Homo sapiens: one gene and its partners. The protein of the gene in region 2 purifies or fractionates together with the protein of the main gene of each other region. This does not show direct contact. Each region holds a gene or a part of one and is shown on either strand. Other genes may lie near its edges.

What was found. The genes of interacting proteins can lie anywhere in the genome.
Region 1: the proteins of ANKRD49 (region 2) and CPNE4 purify together in Homo sapiens (affinity purification with mass spectrometry; 2 studies listed by BioGRID and IntAct, with this or other methods). This does not show direct contact.
Region 3: the proteins of ANKRD49 (region 2) and CSNK1E purify together in Homo sapiens (affinity purification with mass spectrometry; 3 studies listed by BioGRID and IntAct, with this or other methods). This does not show direct contact.

Annotation. Positions count from the first base shown.
Region 1 is NC_000003.12:132,025,015-132,032,014, forward strand, and holds part of CPNE4 (copine-4), read right to left. Parts: intron 1-7,000.
Region 2 is NC_000011.10:94,489,957-94,497,139, forward strand, and holds the start of ANKRD49 (ankyrin repeat domain-containing protein 49), read left to right. Parts: upstream 1-4,027; 5' UTR 4,028-4,079; exon of another isoform or gene 4,080-4,214; intron 4,215-6,647; 5' UTR 6,648-6,737; coding exon 6,738-6,995; intron 6,996-7,183. Other genes in the region: double-strand break repair protein MRE11, read right to left, coding at 877-1,009, 2,826-2,845. UniProt on the Homo sapiens protein: Induces HBG1 expression. May have a role in spermatogenesis where it promotes autophagy in response to serum starvation, via the NF-kappaB pathway.
Region 3 is NC_000022.11:38,290,191-38,293,433, forward strand, and holds the end of CSNK1E (casein kinase I), read right to left. Parts: intron 3,130-3,243; coding exon 3,097-3,129; 3' UTR 3,065-3,096; intron 1,749-3,064; 3' UTR 501-1,748; downstream 1-500. Other genes in the region: TPTEP2-CSNK1E (casein kinase I), read right to left, coding at 3,097-3,129.

The DNA of each region.
Region 1 (7,000 bases), on a different chromosome or scaffold from region 2:
CTCCTACCCTAGACCCACTGAGTTAGAAATTCCACAGGAAGGGCCCATCACTTCGGGTTTTAACAAGCCCTCCAGGAGATTCGGAGATTCTGACTCATCCTCAAGTTTGAGAACCATGGCTTGAAGATAATATTTTATGCCAGTAACATTTTAGACTTTCGTAACAGAGAGATACCCAATATGTTGTCTAATGCTGGCAGCCTAAGATCCTTTTGGGACAAGGGCAGGGGAAACAAAGTCAAATACAATAAATTTCTGCTGCTGGTCTTGTAGGGTGGAATGATTGATTTTGTATTCTGGTTGTGTTCCTGGGGCCAGTACTAAACGTACCTTTCATTTGAAATAAAGCTGGAACCATTAGAAACAGAGGAAGTTTTATCTTAGAGAAACTCCAGCATAACGCTTGAGTCACCTTTTGTGGCTGGGCATAAAATTTGTGAGTAGGAACAGAGAGAGAGGAGAGGAGGAAAGGGAGAAGAAGGGTAAATGATTCAGTAGCTATGAAAAGCATACATTTTGTTGCTGATATCTACCATACCTTCATAAACACACTTCTAATTTTCACAATTCCCCTGCAACACAGCAAACCATTACCATTAGGGTAATTAACTACTAATAAGCCTCTAGTTTGTGAGAGATGCCACCAGCAAATAAAGGTTGCAATTTGAGTAATTTCCAAGTGACAGCAAGCTTCACAGCCATCCTATAACATAGACACAATCATTATTCTCATTCTATATCTATGAAAACTGAGCTTCAACAGGTTAAGCAGAGCTGAAATTCAAACCTAGGAATTCCTGACTTAAAATTTATGCCATTCACCAATACACAATCTTACCTACCTACATACAACACACAGAATAGTCTTGCAAATATAGTGGAGCACATTTGAGGTGAGGACTGTGATTTAAAGTCAATGCGTAAAGTACAACACACACGTAGTCAAAATAATCCTTGAAAAATATTATAAATTTTTCATGAAGTACAATATATGTTGTATTACAGATACAACTATGTGCAGTAGTAATATGTCATACAACTTCATATATCAATTTGGATGATATGATAAAGTCAATAATCAAAATATAATAAGAATATTTTTAATAAATGAGAGCAGGCGTAGAATAGATTTTGAGTAAGTTAAAAGCATGCTTTGCCTGGATGCAGGATATTTGCTAAGGGAATGGAGATGCACCCAGAGTGACAGAGGGAGTATCCTATGTGCCAAAAAAGTTCTAGGTTCTCTGGAGTCATATCAAGAAGTGTGATATACAACTGCTACTTGGAAAAGCTTGCAACATGCTACAGACATGGTCATATCTATGAATAACCATGTTACAAGGCACACAATGCAGGGGCTGAAGCATAGCCAGGCCAGGAGAGGGTATGGTAAAGAGAATTAACTTCAACTTGGAGAATCCAAGCCCAAGAAGCAAAGATCTTATGAAGCATGGACTGGATAAATGTGCCCTGGTCTGAATTGGAATAGGGATACCCTAAATTTCATTCCTCTTCCTCCCAGTTGCCAGTGCTTTGACAACTGACCAAATTATTTATAAAACAGTACTATTAATATCTAACCCACAGAATATACACTTCTAGTGACTGTGTATGTATTTATATTTATATAATTAAATAATTTTATTTTTCTGCAAGATAAATGCATATTATCTGAAATAAATTAACATTACTTTTTAAAAGAAGTACTATATCCCACTTTAAATCTTCTCAGGATGGATGGAGAGCAAGGTTGGGAAAGTAGGAAAAAAACATTGAGTGCATACATACAGTGAGTCAAGGCCTCTCTTCTGCCTTATAGCCTTATATATATGGTTTAATCTCCATTTTTACAAATGAGGAAATAGGGACAGGTTTAGTAATTTCCCCAAAGCAAAACAGCTATTAAGTGCCAGAGCCAGCGTTCAAACTAAGTATGCTTACTTTTAAAGCTTAAGCCCTTATCATAACAAAACTTAACACATATTTGTCTTTATCAAACTGCATTGCAACCCTGTGATTTCTTGGCACATTTCCTGATATGAGTGAGGAAGAAAGAAACAGCTTATTTCATTCAGTCAACCAAAAGTTTTTGAGCAACTACTAGGTACCTAGCACTGTTTGGGGTTCAGTTGTGAGCAAGACAGAGAGAGTTCTGACCCCCTGAAGCATGAAGTGGAGAGGAGAGAGGAGTGTGGTGTGGCATGGGCCAGAGAAGAACCCCAGGCCCAGGAGTGAAGAAGCCTTTATTCTCACTGCTGTAACTAGGCCACCAACGAGCTTGAGCAAGTCACTTCACCTTGCTGAGTCTCTTTTTTCTTATCTGGAAAATGGGAGGGGTGTGCATAATTTTATGGGATTGCCAAGTTCTCACATTCTCTTATTCCATAAGAGGCATTTATTTTCCCATCTTTTTAAAATTAAATCAGGTTAGGAGCTATCATGAGTGTTATTAGTTGCCAAAAAATCAACTATTTCCACTCTTTTCCTCTTATCGTGCCTTTTCTCCAATACAATTCACAATCAGTCAAGTCACAGGACGTAAAGGCCACCAAGCAAAAGAAATCTGACAATGGCTTCTCGGGAGCTCTGCAGTCTACCTGGCCAGATAACGTTAACACACATGATCAAAGGTGTCCATCCCTAGTTTCACATTAGCACAATGTCAGGTGCAAAACTCCTTGACTTTTGCCACTGAAATTTATATCTCTGAGTTACCTGTTGAATCAACTGCTCCGAAGATAACAAAGACATCACCTCAGTCATCTTGCAATGCTAGTGGCTACTAACATCTTAAAAGCCTTCTTTGTCTTTAATGATAATGATAAAGTATTGTTTTGGGCCATTCTATTGCCCTTATTATTTTTCATTTTTATGGATATTTGTATGAAATACACCTTTCAATATTTTTAAAACAGAGTTCTTATTTAGATTGTTTCAGACCCATCACTTAATGGTAAAGGTTCTTGGTTATATTTCTATTACATTTCCTTCCAAATCATTTTCTGTTTAAATGAATTAAGTCAATGATTTAGGCATTTACTTCATGATATTGATGAAATTACTACATACAGGGCATGGTGCAAGTTGATTAGATTTTAGAATCTCTATTAGCGCTGTTAAGAATACATACAAACCAAAGTGCCTGCTGAATGAGATGCCACCCCCTCCACTTCTCCCTCAAAATTACCTTCTGTCCACCTGTTTCCTTGAAATACAGGGAGAGGAAAAACACCTTAGTATAACAGGACTTGTAAAGGACCACTTCCCAGGTCCTTTGAGACAAACCAAATATCTCCTTCTTTATCTCTTACCTAGCATCATTTGTTCATCTTTCTCCTCACACTTAACAGCACAATTTCAATGTTTCTTTTCACCAGTCTGCCTGTGCCTCAAGTTTTTATGTTTATCCCCAGTGCCTAGCACAGCTTTTGACATAAATGCTGTGACCAATTATTATTCAACAGATAGATGAATGAGACCCTTCTGCTGAGGGGGAAGGGGTAAGAGATGGGGGAAGGGATAAGAGATGGGAGAAGAGGCCCATTTAAAAATAAAATGGTGATAGCAAATAACAATCACAGTGAACCTGTGTTAAGCTCCTATTGTGTGCCAAGCATTGTATATATTATTGCTAACCTTTAACAAAAAGGAAAAATGGCGAAAGTAATTTTATTTTCTCTTCTTATAGATCTGCACTGTTTCAATAGGGTAGCCACTACCCACATAGGAGCATTAAGCACTTAAAATGTGGCAAATCTGAATTAAAATGTGCTGTAAGTATAAAAATACATGCTAGATTTCAAAGATTTAGTACTAGAAAAAAAAGAATGTAAAATATCTCAATAATCTCTATATCGATTACATGATTTTTTAAAATTTTGTGTTAAGTAAAATATATTCTTAATTTTTCTTTTTTTTTTTTTTAAAGGGTGAAGTTTGGGGAGAACTCCCAAGAGAATGGGCACAGGAAGTAGCATTTATCTACGCACTAAAATGCCAGACACTTTTAAACACCTCACATTTACAACAATTACTAGCCCCATTTTCCAGATCCTAATACTCGGGTTAAGTGATTCACCCAAATGCCTGGATCTTGAAAACTGTAGCCCAAATTTAAACAAGGTATTTCCGGATTCAGAGTTCTTCTGATAACAGGCCCAAGTGTAAGGAAACAAAGGGCGATCAGACCCCAGAAAGGCCTGTCACGAGGAGTTTTGAGAGTAGTCAGACTGTCCAGCCGCGGAGCAACCTAACCAGGCACTGGAAGACACCACCAGATGCTCAGGGCAAAACCTTTTGTCCCCTCTCCGCAGCGAGGCAATCCAGGCCGGAGAGTCAGATGCACCTGAGAAAACCAATATCCCCAGGGCATATCTTGGGGTTGGGTCAAACTCCATTCCTTATCCTAGAAGCCCTGCTTATGGGTCCCGGAGGTTGACTCTGCTAGTGCTCCGGCGCCCTCTAGCGATTGTCCATTCCAATGCCAGCTCTCTCTAGTCCGTCCTTCTAGACTCACCAGCTCCTAGGGCTTGCCCTGCCGTGGACCCCTGCCAGCCTGATTTTGCTCCTCCCCTACCTCAAGGTGCAATGAATTGCCCTACACTTGGATAAGAAAGAGGTCTTCTGGTCAATAAGCCTTAAACCTGAGCTTTCTAAAGTTAATCCGAAATACTGTATTTTCCCCCTGACATTTCCAAGGAGAAATTTCTCTAGTTTCCTAAGTAATAAGAAAAACAAAGTTAGAAATACTGTGTTCTGAGCCAAAGATGTAAAAGCAACATTTAAGAAAGTTTGTTCTTTTTGAATGACGCTTTAATTTAAAACAGAATAAAGGATTCCCCTGTGTGTTCCTGGAACTGTAAACACTCATAAACTCTCTTTGTTTACTTTATTGACTCAATTGTGACATTTAAAATAGAAAGCTAAGTCTATGCATGAGCAATTTTTTACAGAACATGCACATTAACAGAGATGGCTGCAGACAATGACTTTGTACAAATTCAATCACATTTATTGGGTAAATATTGCACTGGCTCCAAGAGACAGCAATGTAATAAGTCCCAAGCCTACTCCTCCTAACACTCTAATGGAGGTGGGAGACACCCCCGCAATCATCCCTAACTCATACTTAATAAAGATCAGCAGTGCACATGGTGCCAGAGATTGGCTCCACTGCTGTAATTATCTCCAGGGAACTTGAGTTTCTTTATGAGGGGAGTAATCAGAAGGGTTGTTGAATGAGTCTCCTGATTTTGAGAAGTCACTTATTTGAGCTTTAGTTTCCACATTTGTCAAATTAAATTGCTAGAGTCAGCAGATGATCCCCAAGCTCTCTTCCAGTTCTGAGAGTCATAGAACATGCACATTAACGGAGATGGCTGCAGACAATGACTTTGTACAAATTCAATCACATTTATTGGGTAAATATTGCACTGTTGAAAGTTGCTGATCACAGTTTAGAGATGAGTCCATCACAGATCAGCTTAAATGGGCTCCCCTTCCAGCCCTATGACTAAAATAATAGGACTGGAATAAACTTTCCCAAAGAAGGCATCCTTATCACTTTCTTATTTTTGAGACTTGCCTTCCAACCCTCAATATTTACTGAGCTAAAAGCTGATGGTTCCCAAGAGGGTTTCCAAAGAATACAGCAGACAAATAAAGGACTTCCCAGGATGTGCTGATTTAGGAGAAAATATATCCAATATATCACATATATTTAGTAGTTCATACAGCAAACAGAAAGCTCCCACATAACTGCAGTTTCTAGTACAGAAAAAGAAAACCTGAAAGTATATGTAGGCACTAATATGTTTTTATTATGCAGTCACAAGTTTAGGAGATATTCACTGAGTTTAACACTAATTGAGGCCTTACTATAGACTATTTCAAATAACATAGAAAAGATGATGCATCTTACCTGACCCATTTATTGTGCTTGATTTTTGGATTTACCATCAACTATCACATAAATACTTTATCCAAAAAATGGATGTGTAACCCCAACCTAAATTATTATCATAATGTGCTTCCCTGAAAAGAAAATATTATAAGATTTTGGGGACATCTTAAAAAGAATTAAAATCAGTAATCTATTCTTTGCCATCTACATTCAATCAGGAGAAAGGCAACTGTATTATTACATGTTGGAAGATCAGTTTTAATGCACCAAAGAATGGTCTTGAACTATGTGACATTTTATTTTGAATGCATTTAAATTTTTCTATTTTGATATTTTGTAAATCTAGTGTACTGGCTACTGTTGCCAAGGAAATATGACTTTGGGTTACTGAATGGATCTGCAAAGGTTTTTGTTTTTCTTTTAAAATATTAACAAGACAAAAATGGAAAGATCAAATATGGAACACAAATTTAGCCCTTTCTCTCTTCAAAGTGCACGGAATACAGATCTTCTTACACACCACTGATTAAAAAATACAAAGATGCATGAAGTGATTTTTCCCAACTAGTGTAGAGACTTTTACCCAATTAGCCAAGTTGATATCATCAGAGTACCTGTCTCATTCTTTGTTCTGGATTCAGACCACTCTGAAAATGTGTGGTATTGATTACACACAACACTGACGGCTCATCTTCAATAAGTTCATCTCTAAATGAAAAGATCCTTTCTTTATGTGGATAAAGGTAACATAATGTTCTAGGGTGTTACATTTCAAAGAATTTTCGAAGTGAAGTCAGAAGAAGGCATAGTGCAAACCTTATAAATGTGTTCAGTATTAATTCCAAAAGATTCAAATACATATGAGAATAAAGATTCCACCATTAACCCATTTTTTTTGGTCTGTGATTGTTTCTTATAGTCAGTATAACCTCAAGGTTTTAAGTCATAATAATGGGCTTGAATAATCTAATTATTTAAAAGAATCAAAGCTTTTTTCTATTGTTTTGGAATATTACATAAAACTTCTCTATAAACAGATAACATCTTTACTTCCTACTAACTGAAATGAGGTATTTTTAATTAGAAATACACAAGCAG
Region 2 (7,183 bases):
TCATCCCCACCCCGCTACAACTAACCAAAGTACACAAATCCTCTTTTTGCAGTATCCCTTGCATTCATTTCCTCTTTTCCATCCCTAAGGTCAATACTTCAAAAAAAGCCTCTAACTGGTCTCCAATTCATGGTATTATACTCCGCTGCCAAAAGACTTTCTCTTGAACTGGATACAAATTTCTCAATCTGATATTTGAAGTCCTCATTAATGCAGCTCAAATCCTTCCTTCTAGTCTCTCAGCATGCTTGCTAACTATGACCTGCTGGTGAGCCAAATTGACTACAGGGCCCCTAACATACCTTATACTGTCTCACGGGTTTCCTCACTCCTGCTTCACATGGATGTACATTCTCTATGCTCCCCACTGGCCAAAAGTCTACCCTTCCTCCAAAGCCCAAGTTAAACACAACCTTCTTCATTAAACTCATCTTGCTATAATCTAAACGTGATTTTTTCTGCCTCTAAACTCAAAGGAAATGTTATTTAGAATTTTCTTAGGGCTCCTATCACATACAACCTTGCATCTGTGGATTGTGGATATTTGTCTTTCACACCAGTTTTCTTCTACGTTATCTGAAAGCAGAAGCTTTGACAGTCACCTTACATTTCGAATAGACACTGCCACAGGATCCTGCATTCAGTAAACACCCCAAAAACATTTGTAAATTTTAACAGACTATTTACAAAAGTAGCTCCTACTTGAATTTAAGACACAAAGCATACAAAATCAGCTTTGAGCTTTCAGTATATTGATATTCAAGCAGGCAAGGTAAGCACCTGAGCTTATAAAACAAATCTCTAACTTTAGAAGGAAAAATAACTTGTTAACCAAGGGAATATGGTAGATAGTGCACAAATACAAACCACACTCACTTCATTTTCCTGGGCAAGTCTTAAAATTTCATCGAGTGTTACAAACGTATCATTTCCTCTGACTGCATCTTTCTCCATAAATCCAAGATGAATATCTGTTGCAACTAATATTTTAAATGTGTTTTCATCATCACTATATTAAGAAAGAAGAAACATTTCAATATATTAATAATTCATTAAAGGATATTCAAACAAATTGAGACAAACTTATAAAATAAATAATAACAGTTATAGAGTAAAATCATTTTTTTTAGCCTTAGAGTTCATCTGAAAATCTGAAGTATTCAACGTTATCATTAACATTACAGTTTTCCTAACCACTAGTTCAATACAGAACAAATGTACATAAATCTTTACAAGGTTCTATAACTGCTTCAAAAATTTATAACCTTGTTATAACCAGTTTTACAAACTCATGTAACCCAGGCCCAAAAGTTTGCTTGTTTTCCTCAGATAAATAAACTTGTTATTTATCTGACTTCGTACTCTTCCAGGAAAATCGAAGTTAATTTAAAAAGCCTTCCTCTAAGTTTATGAGTCAATTTTATACTAATATGCAATAATTTACATTCAGGGCCTTGAAGACACTTGCATGACTCTACTCTCTACAGAGTTAGATTTCATTAATAAAGTTGGCCAACACAGAATTGTTTCAATTTGAATTTGGTAATATTCAAAGGTACTTTAATGTGAAGTAGCAATGTAATAGTTATTAATACTCTTACACTAAATTTAATTGTATGAAATACTTTTATTTTTATGATCTCATCTCAACCCTCACAGATAAAGAGTCAGGCATTATTATCTCTGACAAATGAGAAGGCTAAACCCAGAGAAATTAACTGCTTTATCACATAACTAGTGACAGAAACAGGACTAAAACCCATGATGAAAACTCAGGCTATTTTCAATAAACCACAATGAATTTTTAAAAAATCTCTGTATATATCTCCAAAATTCAAATCTTTACAAACAAAAGATATTTCCACAAACGATTTCTCTTCAAAAACTTCAAAAATGATATGCACACAGTTCTCACTGATATATCCAAGAAGGTAGGTCAGATACTTTTCAAATCATAATACTACATGTTTCTGTAGCAATTTATGAAGTATTTTCTCATGAATTCTCTCATTTAAGCCTCAAAATTAATCTGAAAAAGGTATAATTATTCCAATTATACCAATGGCAAAATTGAGGCAAGGCTCAGAGAACTGCTGACTTGCCCAAGGTCACACAGCTAGTAGGGTCCAAGGACTTGAAACTAGGGTAAAAGACTCCAAGTCTAAAGTCTTTCCCACATAACTTTTTTTTTTTACGATCTCGGCTCACTGCAACCTCCGCCTCTCGGGTTCAAATGATACTCCTGCCTCAGCCTCCTGAGTAGCTGGGATTACAGGCATGCGCCACCACGCCTGGCTAATTTTGTATTTTTAGTAGAGACGGGGTTTCACCATGTTGGTCAGGCTGGTCTCCAAATCCTGACCTCAGATGATCCCGCTAGCCTCGGCCTCCCAAAGTGCACATAACTTTTACAGTCCTTTTATTTATTCCCATTCCATTCAAATTCATTTCCAGCTTATTTAATACTAGAGGAATTTACTCTAAAAATCTTAAACAGAACTGCATTGACTAATAAGAATTTGTCAGGAAAATTCAAGAATATTTATCACTTCAATAATTTAAGATGAAGCCTAAGAACATAAACAATACTATATCAATATATCAAATTACTGCAAGACTCCAATCTATAGCTGCATATTAGCTTCCAGTTAACAAACAGATAAATATTTAAAACATTCCAAATACCCTTTTTGATGACTAATATTTCTGTTCATAAACAGGTTCCTTATTTACTGCTTATTAAATAAGTTTTCTTTTACTGTGATCACAGTTGACGAGCTTTAGAAACCCCAAATAACAAGGGATTCCAGAAGTCAGGTGCTTACAGTGCATCTGCAGTACTCATTTTTATGGTCAGTCAAGCTCCTCTGGGACCAGGTTCTTCTCCAAGAACCCCTGGGTACTGTACTCAAATGTCAGAAAATGCACTCGATTCCAAATTCTAGAAATTCTAAAAACAAAATTACATCATAAAACACATTTTTTAAAAGCCTGCACGTATTTAACCAACATGATTTACGCTGCACAAGGTACAGACGTCTTAATTAGACTGGCAAATTTAGAAGTCTCATTTTCATCTAAGCACCCACTATACTTTTTTTTAATGAACTGAGCATAGAAAATAATATATCTCCAGTGTACATCCTGTTTCCTAGTTTCACCAAGATGATTAAACTCCTATTTTCCTTTCCCGTGCTCTTATGGGAAATTAATGTATGCTAAATAAATGGGCAGAAAGGGTCACATACGGTTCTGGTTCAACACACAAACAACTCTAGATGTGCAGATATTTTTAAGTTGCACGCATAGGTTACTCTGGAGAACAGAGGCAATCCTGTATTTCCTATTCAAACCCCACGATTTTTTTTAAAGGACCTGGCTAGTTTGGAAAAGGGAACGGGCCCGCGTTTAAAGCGAGTGTAAATAAACAAACACGTGGTCTGCGGAGGAACACCTTTAAGCACCAGCAGGATGACTGAAAATAGCCAGGTTTGGGGAAGAGTGGCTGCCACCGCGAGACAACCCCCACCACATCTGGAGCTCCAGATTCCGTCGGGATTCCAAGCCTCAACACGCCCTCACCGCAGGGAACCTCGGAATCAGAACGCTGAGCCCGCCAGGACCCCTCCCCTGCCCACTCGGCCCGCTCTTCCCGAGGTTCCAGTTAACTCTGGGCTTCCGCCTGGGAACCTGCAGAAACAGGAGACGAATGCGATTCCTAAATTACCCCACTGCTGGACTCTTCGAAGCCCCACAATCGCGACCCAAGGCTGTCTTCTTTTCGGGAAGAAAGGGCAGGATCCGTGAAAAGAAAACAACACGGTCTGAACTTGCCTCTGAGAACCCGCAGGGCCGTAAACCTGAATTCCGCGGGAGAGAACGGCGTCCGTTTCTCTCGCGACACTTCATGGATAACGTAGATGCTTCAAGTCCAGTTCGGCTCTCATTGGCTACCGCACGCAGTGAGGGGGCGGGGAAAGTAGCGGCGAGGCCCCGCCCTCACGCAGGAGCCAATCCTGAGCAGGCTAGGAGACGAACCCGGAAGTGAGATGCAAGGCGGCGATTTTCCCTTCTGTCAGGTGGGTTGTTATTCCCTGTCCCGGACCTCGCTTTTTGATGGACCGGCGCCATCTAAGAACTCCTGAGCCCGTGGGGGTGGGTAGCCTGTGGACACAGGCCGAGCCCTGCAGGTCAGGCCGCTTCGTGGTCCCCAGGTAGGACCGAAGCCGCTTCTCCGCTCTTGGCTGTTTGGAAGGCCGCAGGCGGAGCTCACGGGCCTGTGAGCTCCCGGCTGGTGGCAGAGTGCCGGAGCTGGATCCCCTCTCCCTCCCTCCCAGTCGCCAGACCCTCTACAGGTGTCGCCCCTAGGTCCTTGAGTTCAGCACATCTGCACTGCTTTGTGCTGAGAGCAGTAAGATGTATAGTGCAGCGAAAAATAATGTAGAACTTTTGAATTAGAACGTCTGCCCTTTCAGTTCCATTGAAGGGTCCTTGATCTAGGGCAAGTTGTTTTAATCTATCTGAACCTCCTTCACCAGTAAGGTTTATAGCCCCGCCTATCACTGAGTTGTTTGTAAGGAGTTGACATAGTTCGGATCTCTCTCAAAATAGGATATGCCCTTTAAGTTAGGAAACATACCCTGACATTCCTGATGGAATATCAGGAATATCATCATCAAGTCATCAGTTTTGTTTCTTAACTGTAAGTCGGGTAGATGCGCCTAGGCTTGGCTTTTTAAACTAAATATACCAGTAAAATTTTGTACATAATTTTTTGTATCTGGATCTGTAAACTCAAAATTTATATAAAGGGAGTTTTTATTGAAAGGAAAAGCATGTTGGGGGAGAGGGTAAGATCTGTGGTATAAGGTTACTATATTTGATATAATTACAAGTGAACTTTTATTTATTAGCATCTGTTAAGTGTTTAATGAATTGATGTATGGTCATTTTTGTGTTGCAAGGTTCAGGAATTAGTTTGAGAATCAAAGAAAAAGTGGAAGCTCCAGGAGAATTAATAAAACACAGAGCAATTCTGATTGGATATCTCTGATTCCAAGGGTGTCTCTGATTGGGTGACTGAAAAGCCGGATTGGCCTTAGGAATACTTTAGTAAAATTCTTACATTTTACAATAAAGTAACAGGACCAGAAAAGTTACTGGACATGAGTAATACATTTAAACTTGAGTTTAGTGCTATTGCCACTAGTAATAAAGTTTAATACCACATTAAGATTGTATACTGTTAAACTTGTGAGATTAGGTATCAAGAAATCAGTATCTTGGGGTTATGCCTAACTCTGGAACTTCTCAGAATCCATTCCAGGCAAAATCAAGTGACAAGACTTTAATTAAATGTAATGCTACACATACTTCTTAATGCCTTCTATAGACAAGTAGGAGATAAATATAAGTTAAATGTGGTCCTTATCTTTCAGCTTATAATCTTTTAAGGGGCTAAAACAAGAACAAAGTTAGAGGTGAAATGTAGCACCAAAAAAAGTAGAAAGCAGAAAGCGATCTAAATGAGAGGATCAAGAAAGAATGAAAGAGATAACATCAGAGAAGAGCCTTGAAAGACTGATTATATTTCAACAAATAGAGTTGAGAGGCTGGGAATTCGTATTTGTAAATTATCTATTGGTTATTCTCCTTTTCTTTAATTGATTAAGGTTTATATGTTGTGTAACCCTTTAAGCTGATATTGGTTTAAAAATTAATATGGCAGCTTAGCAGAATAAACATCAGTTCCTTCAGGAAGCCTTCTTTAATCCCTTAGGACTAGGGGAATTATGAACCTCCTGTATACTCATGGTTTCTAGACAAGGTCTTGTAGTAGTACTTATCATGTTGTCTTTGCCAGACACATGATGTCTTTGCCAGTCACCTACACTAGAGTAAGCTTCCTGAGGTGAAGACATGGATCTTGCTCATTATTGAATCCCAGTACCCAGAAGTTGGCACATACCAGACATTCTATTCATATTAGTTGAATGAAGGAATGAATGACAGCCAAAATTCAGTTGAAAACAAGGACCCAACTAAGAACTATAGTTGCCTATCAATAAACAGGACTACTTTTTAAAGCAGTGAATTTTCCTAGGCCTGAAATTATCAAAGTAGAAATAGGATAATTAGTGTAGATGCTGTGATAAAGATATATGTACCGATGACAGATTGGAACAGATGTCCTTTTGGGGGCTATTCCATCTTCAAGAATCCCTGATTCTTCGAAATAGTATTTTTAGGAATTAGAAGTTTTTATTTCTGCTCTATATTATCTGTGTGTCTAGTTTATAAAAATCTTGAATGCACCTGTCTTCATTGTATTAGTTATACTTCAAAACCTTTAAGCATTCATCACTGTTAGCATAACACCATCATACCTAAACCAGTAGATTAAAAATAATAGTTATAATAATATAATTGACTTAGAAGAAAACAACAAAAGTAAGAAGCATTAGACCACTATTAGATCATAGTTTGTTGTTTTCTGTCAGCATCAGTATTTAGTGTATGTAAGGGATATCATGAGAAAAACAAGAGTTTAGACAGGGTTTAATTGTATATGTTTGCAAGACTTATCTATGCAGTTGATAAAGCCTGAATTATTGTTTTACTAATAACTTTTGTATTTGTGTTTTCAGATCTTGATGAACAAAGCAGTCATAATTCATCTCTAGAAAGATTTATATCCTGGCATTTGAAATGCTTTTTATTTAGAATAGTAGTAAAAAATGGAAAAAGAAAAAGGAAATGATGATGGAATACCAGACCAAGAGAATTCCTTGGATTTTTCTGAACACTTTAACCAACTTGAATTGTTGGAAACACATGGACACCTTATTCCTACTGGTACTCAAAGTCTTTGGGTAGGCAATTCTGATGAAGATGAGGAGCAAGATGACAAAAATGAAGAGTGGTATCGATTGCAAGAAAAAAAAATGGAAAAAGACCCAAGCAGATTGCTTCTTTGGGCTGCTGAAAAAAATCGGGTAAAAAAAAAAATTACAGAGGGAAGTGTGACAGTAGGAAAAGCACTGGGTTCAAGCCAGAAGACCTGCCTTTACTGTTATGGCCATCATACCTATCTCTTGATTGTGAGGACCAAATGAGACAATGTACATGAAAGCACATATTAAGCTGCAAAGTGTCATGCTAGGTATTATTTGGGGGTTTAAGG
Region 3 (3,243 bases), on a different chromosome or scaffold from region 2:
GTCAGAGCACCCCCACAACCCCCACAGCGAGATGACCTCGGCTCGTCTTGCCTCTGCCACCAGAGCTGTGACTGTGGGCAAGATATTTTACAGCAGGACCAGTTTCTTGTCCGAAGGCAGGGCTATTAACAGGACCTAACTCAGGATACTTGTGTGGATAAAATCATGTGTGAAGAGCTTTTAGGGCCTTGCTTCTCAAAGAGGGGCCCCAGGCCATCAGCACACCTGGAGTGTGCAGGGGGAAGCTCTCAGCCCCACCCCAGCCCTCTTTACAAGACCCCCGCGTGGCACCTGTGGCGTGGCACCTGTGTGCACTCGTGTTTTCAAAGCCCCCGGACATCCCAACCACAGCCCAAGTGTTCTGAAAGTGGCCCCAGCCACACCTGCCTTCAGGGCGAGGGCTTGTTCCTCACTGACTCCTGCTGCTCCCAGCAAGACCCACTTCCGGGTCTGCAGGGAGAGGCCCTAAGGGCACAGAGGTGGACAAAGGGCTGCCTGCATCACTTTATCTTTTCTACTTTATTACTTCAAATTAACAACCACGATAAAGCTCAAAAAAGTCCAATATTTACACAGGAAAAAAGTACAAAATTCCCCCCAAAGTTCTTCAGTTTTTTTTTTTTCAGTTTTTTAAATTACAAAGTAATAAAAAGCTTTGCTCTTTAATTAAAAAAAAAAAGGAAAAAGGGGAAACAGAGGTAAATAAATTAGGAAAACACACACACGGAGAAAACAAACAAAAATAAAATAAAATAAAAACAAAAAGGTGTTAACTAGGAAGGATGGGTTAATCCAAAACCCAGCCCTGACTCCAGGCTCCTCCTCAGAAAGGTGGAACCAGGGAGAGGGGGGACCCCAGGTGACTGTCAGGACCAGGGAAGTAATTTATAACTCAGAGCCAGATGCCTTCTGGAAGCAGTCTCCATGGATTCTGCCCTAAAACCAGGAATGGAAGATGGAGCTGCCACCGGCTGATGACGGGCTAGGGGGGGACCGGTGGCAGCGAGGACCCTCTGAGCTCTGAGGGATGCGGAGGTCACCGCCCACCCCCATGTCCTTGTTAGTAGACACAGGAGAACGGGAATTCGGGCTGGCAGGCGGGGCGGGCCGTGGCACCTGCTGTCTTGGGAAACACAGGTCAATACATCCACACACACACACACACACACACACGCAGGGGACGCCGGCCCCCACCACCTCCCCACCCACTCCATGGAGAGGCAGAGGAGGAGCCTGGAGGCCAGGGGGACAATGGAAAAGCCCAGCACGGGAAGTCAGCCACTGTCATCTCAGAGTGGGTGGGGCTGTGCGTATCTCCTGGATTCTGAGGCTCGGAAAACTCGGTGGGAACTGCCTTCAACTGACTACACCACTCCCTGATGATGCTTGAGGGCCGGCTTTGGCTCTGGGACCTGTCACTTCTCCGACACGGACCCGACCCGTTCCTCTCCAGGCAGGTGGTGGGTGGGGGCAGGAACAGGAGGCCGGGCAGGCCCTGGCGTCTGGCTCCTGTAGCCTGGTGTTGTCAGGGGAGCATCTGGCAGCCTGAAGGTTGGGGGCAGCGGGCACCACAAGGGGGCAAGAATCCTCAGTGCTGAGGGCATCTCATCTTCTTGCCATTGGCAAAGAAATCAAAGAAACAAACTCCATCGTCGGTTTTGTGCTGGGTTTTTTTGTTGTTCTTTTGAGTGGTTTATTTTTGCCTTTTTTTTTTTTTTTTTTTTTTTAAAGAAAATACAGTGAAGACACTAGAAGGGAGAAGGGAAAAGACAGGTGAGGTACACAGCTGTCTCTGGCTACTTTTTTTTTTTTTTGAGATGGAGTCTCGCTCTGTCCCCCAGGCTGGAGTGCAGTGGCACGATCTCGGCTCACTGCAACCTCCACCTCCCAGATTCAAGCAATTCTCCTGTCTCAGCGTCCCGAGTAGCTGAGATTACAGGTGTGTGCCACCACACCCGGCTAATTTTTGTGTTTTTAGTAGAGATGGGTTTTCACCATGTTGGCCAGGCTGGTCTCGAACTCCTGACCTCAAGTGACCCACCTGTCTGGGCCTCCCGAAGTGCTGGGATTACAGGTGCGAGCCACTGCACTTGGCCCCCCAAACTCCTGTCTTCTCGTCCCTTGGTCTATCTCCCTCTGGGCCCCAGAGCCTGGCTCAAGGCCCAGCACGCTAGGAGATCCATCTTCATGTGACAGAAACGGATTCTCTCCCTTCTCTGCCCTCCTGGTGAGCATCTCCCCACCCCACCCCCAAATATCTGCCCAGCCCGCCATGGACAGCTTGGTTCCTGGGCCTGAGATCCGAGGAAGGCCAGCCCTGTTCATGCCTCCACTCTCTTGTGTGGATGAATTTCTACAAAACAGACCACACACAGATTGTCCCAGTGTAAAGTTGAGTCCCCCGACGTGTCGGACTACTGCCTACAAATGGACACACGTTCCCCAGAGAGCTCAGATTATACCCTCGAGAAGCCCAAAGAACCCCTGCCGCCTCCCCTTCCCCAAGCCAGGCCCCAGAGTGGGGCGTTTCCATACCCCGCCTCAAGGCCTGGTACAGTCCGGGAAGAACCAGCAGGCTCACGCTGGCCAGAGGGCCTCTCTCAGTCCTACTACAGAGGCATAAAAAGGGCTCCTTTGCTTCCTCCACAGCCCTGTTGTGAGTCTTGTGCAGGAATTAACTTGCGTAACAGCCCAGAGGCTGAGACAGGGCTAATGCCGTGGGAGAGGTCAGAGTGTGAGCCCATGGCCCCGTCTCTGCTGGGAACCAACCTTCCAAAATATGTTAAGGCAGAAGGAGATAGAGACCTGGCCGAGGGCAGAAAAAGTTTTTCCAGCAGAAACTAATCCATGAGGGGTCAGGCCTGAGCATAGAAACCCTTGGCCCCAAGTCAGGCAGCCTCCGAGGTTTTAAACTACTTGAGGCCCCTTAGAGTTCTGGGGCGCCTGGTACCATCTGCCACTGCCACTGCCACCCACCCCTCCACAACACATTGGTCTCTTTCTGGGGCCCTGGGAGCTTCTAGGTCGGCTGGGCTGGCTGCATCTGCAGCAGTCATGGACTCACCTAAGCAAACACTGGTCCAATGGGGGCTCTCCTCACTTCCCGAGATGGTCAAATGGCACACTTGTCTTTTGAGGGTGGGGAGGGAGAGAGGGGGAGGGAGAGAGAGGGAGGTACAAGCTTCAAGTCAAGTCCCTTAGCCGCTGGCGATAGAGATTTGGCAAGTCTCTCCCCACTGAGGA